Linked DNA regions of Homo sapiens: region 2 is linked to region 1. Evidence: fine-mapped expression QTL. A gene starts in region 1. The other region holds a variant in brackets. All regions are shown on one strand. Distances are from middle to middle. Region 1 holds the start of HDGFL3 (HDGF like 3). Region 2 overlaps TM6SF1 (transmembrane 6 superfamily member 1).

The links. PIP is the estimated chance that this variant, and not a neighbour inherited with it, causes the effect.
Region 2: its variant is the best candidate, but not a certain one, in a credible set for the expression of HDGFL3 in whole blood (TOPMed, PIP 0.79).

Annotation. Positions count from the first base shown.
Region 1 is chr15:83,205,720-83,210,246 of GRCh38, forward strand. HDGFL3 (HDGF like 3) reads right to left here and starts at 2,104. Exons shown (of 6, transcript NM_016073.4): 1 at 1,612-2,104. The coding sequence starts at 1,695. RefSeq lists silencers at 1,362-1,811, 2,202-2,541 and an enhancer at 2,402-3,015.
Region 2 is chr15:83,132,818-83,136,817 of GRCh38, forward strand. TM6SF1 (transmembrane 6 superfamily member 1) reads left to right here. Exons shown (of 10, transcript NM_023003.5): 10 at 3,664-4,000. The coding sequence ends at 3,855. HDGFL3 (HDGF like 3) reads right to left here. Exons shown (of 6, transcript NM_016073.4): 6 at 1-4,000. Among named protein-coding and RNA genes, the nearest start is that of TM6SF1, 27 kb to the left of the region's middle. The variant G/A (reference allele first, on the strand shown) is at 1,977.

The DNA of each region.
Region 1 (4,527 bases):
CCTAAAGCTATACATTTCTTACTTGGCAAACAGATTCGGGGATTTTCTGAAGTCACAAATATATTCAGGGACTCCTAAAGTCACAAATCTTGCCTCTCTAAGCAATACTGTATTACAGCATAAAAAATAACCAGTTATTCTACCTTAAAAACTTTGCCTTATCTTAAGGACAATCTACAGTTCAGATGCGAAGCTATTTTCAGTCTACTGGAACCTGAATAAGACTGTTTTTTCCTCTTGATATCTGAGGTTGTTAGTGTTGGAAAGGATCCTAGAGATGATTTTATAGTTGCAGCAATGGATATGCAGACAGTTGAAATGATTAGTCCATAACAGAGCCTGAACCAGACACCAGGTCCCCCAATTCCTGGCCTAGTGTTCTTTCCATTTGACAATCATGCCAAACCAAATATTTAAAAAGTGATTATGTCCATCCATTACTTCAACTTCACTAAATTTCAGTCTGGCCACTCGTGATGTCACTTCCTTTTGTGAATGGGTGTATTTTTTTTTCTTGATCTTGCTATCTTCACTTGACTACAATACAACATTTTAGAGCTCACACTATATTTATGCCAATTTTCTCCATGACTGTTTCCGTTCCTAAAGAATACCAATATAATCTCTAGAATGCCTTGACCCTCCTTTTCACAAGATTTCTTATTTCAAGCAATCAACTGCCAACCATACAAAAATAAAAATAAAAAGGATTTCTTCTAAAACACAAAGCACACATGGCAGTGTTGTGTGTCTTCCTCAAAGAGCTTAATAAAAATTGTGAATGCTATGTATTACATGCAGACGCTTTCTAGAAAAAGAGCCCAACGACAACCTTGTTATGTAGGAAGAGAGAGCTATTGTGGACTGTAGCAGGAGGCCAAGAATAAGGTTTGAGATTCTACCTAAAACAAATATGGAGGTGGAAAGGCACAAGAAGCTTGCTGGACCCACCAGTCAGAGGTAGGCTGCAAGCTCTCGGCTATCAGAGGTCGGTTTAAAAGAACGATGGGCACCAGAGAGGCACGTACCCCAGGACAATGATAGGGCAGGCGGGGCACCGGGAATCGCGCTCAGGGAAAACTCAACAAGTCTAGAAGGCAAAGAGATGGATGAATGACTGCCAAGAGGCTCCCGCTGGCCTCTGGATGACCACTACCACTTTCCAGGATTTACTGCCCGCCGGCACTCGCCGGCTCGCGGACAGCCGCTCACCCCGCTGCCGTACCTGCCCCGACGTTCGCCCGGGACCCAGGGTATCCACCAATGACCCTGCCCGGAGCCGAAGCCTCCGTCGCAGGCCCGCTGCCCGGCGGCGTGGCTTCCCGGTCGGCACCGGCTTTCCAGGAGGAAGGCAGCGTCGGGCCTGCGGGGGCCGGACCCGCCTTCGAAAGTGGGCGGAAGGATGGCCGCCCTGGCGGAGTGCGGGCGAGGCCGGGAGCCCTTGCCTCAGCCCCGGCCCGGTCTTCTTCGTGCCGCGCCGCCCTCAGCCCTCACCACAGCCGGCCGCGAGCTGCGGGCTCGGGGCTGAGGCGATGGGGAAAGGGGGCGGGCGCGCCATCATGAAGGGGAAAATGGTGGGCGGGCGGGCCCGCGCGCGGCCGCGGTACTCACCCGGGCCGGCCAGTGCGGGTAGCCCTTCATCTTGGCGAAGACCAGGTCGCCCGCTTTGTACTCGCGGGGCCGCGGACGCGCCATCCCAGCCGCTCCCCTTCCTGGTAGTCCTTGGTCGCCGCGAAGATGCCGGGAGGCCGCCCCCCCGCGGGCCGACGAATTGCGCCGCGCTCCCCGCGGGCCTCAAGCCGGGCGGACGAGCGGCCGCTCCGACGAGGGGAAGCGGCGAGGCGGCGGCTGAGGCAAGGGGTGGGCGGGGGGCGCAGCAGGCCCGGCAAATCACGGCCCGGCAGCGGGGGAGGGGAGCCCCCGGCCGTTCGGCGCTCGCCCGCGTCCGGCCGCGCCAAGGTCCCCGCCGCCGCCGCCGCCGCCGCCGCGCGCGCTGCTCACCAGCGCCGCGTCGCCTGCCTCATGCCGCCGCTGCCGGTCTCCCTCCCGGGCTCCCGGGCGCGGCGCGAGCGCCGGGCCTCGCGTCTGCTCCGAATTCCTTCTCGGGCAGCGACCGCAAACACGATCTTATTATTGTTCTCGCGCGCGCTCAGCATCCCCCCCCCGCCCCGCTTCCCGCTTCCCGCTCCCCTCCCCTTCCCTCCCGCGCGGGCCGGTTAATTCCTAGGTACACGGCCGGCTTTCGCGGAGAAACCGAGCGCGCCAGCCCGGCTTCTCGGCTGGCGGGCGGGCGGTGGGCGCGTCCTCCCCCAGCACCGAAGCCCGCGCCGGGCGGGCGGGAGTGCCTACTCCGGAGGACGCCCGCCGCCTGCTCTCTTTTGTTCTTGGCCCGGAGCTGCCTGCCGCAGCCCAGCCAATCACCACCCGGCCGCCCCCTTCCCCTCCCGTCCGTGCCACTCTGGGGGTTCTCCCCACTCGCGCCCCCCGCTCCCACGCCCACCTCCCGCTGACTCGACCCTCTCCTGGCTACCCCCAGCCAGCCACTTCCGCGGCTGCTCTCTGGTGAGTGGGGGACAAAGGCGCTCCAGGCCTGGGGGACGGCGGCGCGAGGGGACCCTCTGCTGGGCACCAAGCTGCCGGAAAGAGCACCGCTCCGGAGTCAGCGACCTTATTGGATTCTTGCCCCAGGTCTGCCCTTAACAATGCAGTGTGACCCACCTAGGGCGAGCTATTTAATCGGAGTCATGGGAGGTTTTCTCATTTGCTGAGTGGCACAGACGGGATTCGAACCTGTATCCACATGAGTCCAAAGTCCATAAGCGATTATGTTTCTCTCTGTGTGCGTTTTCTAGGCCTGCAGTGTTTGTGAAAAGGACTTGCACTGGCCGGTCACTTGTTTCCAATCCTGGCAACCTTTTGGACAACGTTTTTGAAATTAGCATCCCTTTCTGGAGATGTATGTACATATACAGTTCATTAGCTCTAGAACATGTTCATTTACCACTATTTTACTCTAAATTCCCTAGCTGGCTGCTTTCAAAGACATTTTGAGAGTAGGAATCTTCCTAACACTCTCTTTTGTGAGGAGTAAGTAGAATAATTCAAGGAATCGTTTGGAGTCTGTCCAATGAACGAATGCTGCTTCTTTAATCATGCTGTAACCCACCTCCTTTAAGGGGTCAGCTGGCATAGCTCCTAAATGCTGCTTTCTGTGGCCCTCACCTTGTCACACGGACAGTTCTCATTTGTGTCTGTTCTCTCTCCCTTTTACAGAAGCTACAGTTTTCCCCACCATCCGCCCCCCTCTCTGGCCTTGTAGAATGGTGTGTGTGTGTTTTAACTCCTGCTCTTGTTCTGTGGTGCTGGGCTTCCTATGATGGGGCTTTAAAGTCTCTAGATTTCCTGTGGATTGTTTACTTTGTTAGCAGTGCTTTTACATTACTTTACTAATGCATTTCCTTACTACTTGCATCTCATGATTTTTCTTTTTTTTTTTTTTTTTTGGTATTGACCTGTACTCACCTGTCCTACAGGTTCGTTTTTTTCCTCTTTTCTCACTGTGGAAGATGAGTCTAGGTCCTCTTTGCCTCAGTTGTGATGATCTGCTAACATCTCTCTCTCCTAGAACCTACCGTATGCAGCTGCCATGATGTCACGCATTGCTCATGAAGCTGTAGAATGATTTCTGTATCCTCATATGTCAAACTCACATCCCTCTGACTAGCTGTCAAAGCCCTAGCTGTTGCCTGCTTGCCCCTACAGTCCAGCCTCCCTGTGGGCACGGGGTGGATATAGGGAAGAGGAGAGAAATGAGAGGGGAAAGGTTGTCAGTTGGAAGCCAACCAGGGGAGGGCAGTAAACAATGGAGGGATGCGATCACAGTTCAGGTTTAGACATTACTTTGGTGGCCAGCATGGGACTAGACTTGAGGGTGAGAGGCTTGGGGCAGGACCTGCATTGATATTCTCTCCCCAGGAGAGATAAGACAAGGGCTGAGACAGAGCTTGCCGATTCTTTGGGTGGTAGGTGGGTAGGAAGGAGGAAGAGTAGAAACTGATTCCCTGGTTTCTGGTTGGAGCAACAGGATGATTAGTTTTGACACTCACCAAGGTGCAGAAATCCATGAAGAATGGGCAGGTTTAGAGATGAGATCTTGAGTGGTTTGGGATGTGTTGAGATTTCCATGGGCCATCCAGAGAGCTAGTTAGTGGGCAGCTAAATACACAGCTTAGAGAAAGTGGTCAAGACAGAATGTAGACTTTTGAGTGATATCAGTATATAAGTGGTCACTGAAACCATAACGGAGGATGCCCAGGAAACTGTAGAATGAGAAAAGCAGTGCCCAAGTTTGGAGCCAGGTAACACCAACATCTAAGGGTCAGGTAGAAGAAGAACGTAGTGTCATAGGAGCCAAGGAGTAAAAGATTTTCCAGAAGGAAGGAAATGTCTGGGTAGATGCCACAAGGAGGTCAAGTGAGATATGGAAGGAGATAAGTCTGTTAAACCTGGTGATTGAGAAGTCACTGA
Region 2 (4,000 bases), 73 kb before region 1:
GGTGTGATTCATTGCTAAACATCTTTATTTAGTATTAAATTATACTGATTTAACATCTTTTATGTACTTATCCTTTCATGGAGACACTCACAGTAAAAAGGTCAAAAGGTCAAGAGAATCTAAAAACAAAGGGCCCAGATTTTCTACAGTCGAGCACCAGATCATGAATGGGTATTTCAGTTTTGTACTTGTGTCTACAGAATAGCCCCAAGTGCTTGACACTGTCTAAGCATGTCACAAACATCACCTCACTGAACCCTCATAACAACCTATGAGGTGGGTTCCACACCTCACCCGAGGCCATACGGCTGGTTTGTGGTGGAGCTGTGATTTGACTCTGGATGTCTAGTTCCAAAGTCAGTGTTCTGAACCAATGAACTATGTTGCTCAGAAAACTCTAAGAAAAGATAACACAGTTCTAGATTAGCTATTTATACTGTATTAGCAAAAGACCCTGGCTATCATCCCAATGGTCACCTAAGTTTTCTGCCTATAACATTCACATGGACATATAACACTCTTTCAGTTCCTCCTTGTGGAACCACGATTAACTTTTTTAGTTATCCTTTACAGATTGTCTCTATACATGTAAGAAAACAGCTCTTAAAATTTAACCTTTGTTCACCTTATTGTCTCATTTGCCATTCCAATCATCCATTCTTAAAAAAAAATCAGAGTATATCTCTTAATTATTTCTGTAAGGTGAAAATGATTTAGAATGAAGTGGAAGAAAAATTATTAGGGACTCAACCTCACATTGCTAAATTCTGGAGAAATTTCTAGGATCAACAACTCATATCTGTAATCCTGGGCCTCCTGTTAATTCAGCAGCATTGAGTTCACTGAGCCACCTGACCCCAGCACAGGCTCAGGCTGAGCTCTTCAGGTCCTGCCATGAGAGGCCTTGTGCTGCTGGGAACATCACCCAGGAGAAAACCTGCAGCCCTTTATTAGCTATGTGCTTGGGAAGAGAAACCTCCTCAGGTGAGACTGTTTTTCTGAACTTCAGAACCCTGAACACTTAACATCCTATGCCTTAGGAGAAAGCTATGGTCAGGTGCTCACTCAGCTGGAAGTGTGGCCACCATAAGTACATCCATTAGGACTATGAGCAGTACTGGGAGCTGCACACCACTGGCCTTAGAGTTCTTCTCTCACATACAAATGCCTCTTTTGATTATGAATGTTAAAATTTTTGTGCCTTGTTTAATAATTCTGAATAAAGAGGCCTACTAAAATACATACAAAACTAGAGAAATGCTTTGTAGACCCTTTTTGTATTTTGACAGTCACAAGTCCATTGTTGTTGAACGTTTATTGAGCTCTAACAATGTGACAGGTGCCACACAAAACATTAGACACAGTACCTGCCCAGTGGGCTTACAATCTAATCTAAGGACATGAATCTTTTTTTTTTTTTAAAGACAGAGTCTCACTCTGTCACCCAGGCTGGAGTGCAGTGGCACAATCTTGGCTCACTGCAACCTCCACTCCCCGGGTTCAAGCAATTCTCCTGCCTCAGCCTCCCGAGCAGCTGAGATTACAGGCGTCTGCCACCACGCCCGGCTAATTTTTTGTATTTTTTAGTAGAGATGGGGTTTCACTATGTTGGCCAGGCTCGTCTTGAACTCCTGACCTCAGGTGATCCACCCGCCTTGGCCTCCCAAAGTACTGGGATTACAGGCGTGAGCCACTGCGCCCGGCCATGATTCACTTAATGTTGCCATGAGTTTGCTGTTCATGAAAGTGAGGTATTAACTGCACTGGTTAGTGCAGGAAAAGAGCCTACGGAATCACTGACTTTTTACACAGGCTCCCCTATGCAAGTAGGCACAACTGCTCATATTTATTCTCTCAAAGTATGGTTGGCATTTCCCCAAATTTGGTGATTTTGTGATGTGTACAAGTATCTATAAAGACAGAACCACCAAACCCAGATTTCTGAGAACCAGGGATCAAATGTGGCTTCCAGTCCA[G/A]AGAAAATGCTTGGTTATATATTCAGAAAAACACTATTATTCAAAACAGGCCCTAAGGAAAAACAGTATGGGAGCCATGCTCCTGCTCAGAGTTCCTAGAATGTCCAGAAAGCACCTCCTCAGGGCAGCCCTGAAAGTGCCCTTTACTCTCAAGGCATTTTGTCCTCAGAGCCCAGAGATGCATATACATTTGCTGGGTTCTGCCTGGGCATCTACCCAGGGGAGTTGTATCTGAGGGCCGAGTCCTCTCAGTGCCTCATGGATCACAATGTAGACAATCCACGTGCTGGTCCTTGGCAATACATCATGCTAATTTAATTTATATCTCCAGAGTAGCAAAAATGTACCACAGGTCTCCAGAATATATCAGGAATTTGTAAAAATGCAGCCCATTAAAATATCTGCCACTGATAAAAAATTCATAAAGATGCTGCTTAAAAAAACTTGTCCTTTTCTTGTCATGGTGAAGTCAAGTAAGTAACACCTTTATCTGTGAAATCACTCAGCAGAATAAATTGGTTTCATATGGAAGAAATGTAAAATAACTTATATGTATTTAAAGCAAATTATCTAGTTCTTCATTCTTGTTACTTCTATGCCTTCTCTATAGTGCAGTCTTTTGTCTCTTTGATCCTGATGAACTGATAATTTACTACTTATTACATTTAGATTCCCAATCCTTTATTCATGTGTATCTTGAATTTCAGCAAGATATGAAAATGCAGACTCCAGGGGTACATTTTGTAATGATACAAGCCTTCTGAGGAAATTTTCTGACAGGAGCTTTTAATCCTGCTGTGGTCTGTTTTACCCTTTCCAATACGGTTTTCCTCTGTGCTTGCGAAAAATATCAAAAAAGACCAATTGGCACATTCTGAATGTGTTTTCTGAATAAGTATATAAGTAGAGAGGGAGGCCATTTTGCAAATGCGGATAATGCTGACATGTCGTACTTCTAAATAAATTATAATTTGATTTAAAAAGGTTGCCTGCATGTACATTTGCCATTTTACAAAGAGCAACCGTACTCCTACCTCCACCCAAGTTGGTAACAACCTTATCTTACAAACAACCCTTAATATTTTAAAAGCTGCAGAAAAAACAAATACATGAATAAATGAATAAACAAAAAACACATAGGGAAAGGGTATGAGCTCTTGCTGCAAGGAGTAGATGAAAGACTGATAAATGAAGCTGAGGTCCCCCCAGTGCTTCCCTTTCAATAGTTTATGCTAAAAATATTTGTTTTTTAAAACTCTGCGCTTTCTTCATTTTTATTGGAACGCAATTTGTGAACCACAACTGAGTCTGTATGCAGGATCTCCAGAACGCAAATCAGAAAAAAATTTGAGATTTTATTCAGATTTTTCTATTAGATTGAGCCACTAATGTTCGGTAAGGGGCACTTGATGGTTAAAAAACACAACTGGCATGATAAAACTACACTAAATAATATCTACTTTATTTGAACAGTCATATCAAGAATGGCCCTAAATTTAATCAAGGACTAAATTTAATGAAAGACTCTGACATTAAAGACTCTGGATTGTTTGAAGGTATTTTGCCTGCAGGTGAGACTGGTTTTGAGGGCACAGAAACGTAGCCTGAATGAACCATTCAGAACTCATCATGCATCCAACTGAACACGTTTCATGCTTACTCAATTTTTTTTTTTTAAATGCAACAGGCTCAGTTTTCTCACATTGGTGCATCTCTTCATGCTAGAACTGCTTATGTCTACAGAGTCCCTGAAGAAGCAAAAATCCTTTTTTTAGCATTAAACATAGCATATGGAGTTCTTCCTCAGCTCTTGGCCTATCGTTGTATCTACAAACCAGAGTTCTTCATAAAAACAAAGGCAGAAGAAAAAGTGGAATAAAAATATTACTTCATGTTCCTCCTTTCTAAATTACTAACTTTTGTTATACTGGTACTGATATTTTGTCCCATTTCACTCTCTTCTCATACGTGAGTACTTAAGAATATGTACATTCTTGCTCTGCACTGTATGTGTGAGCTATATG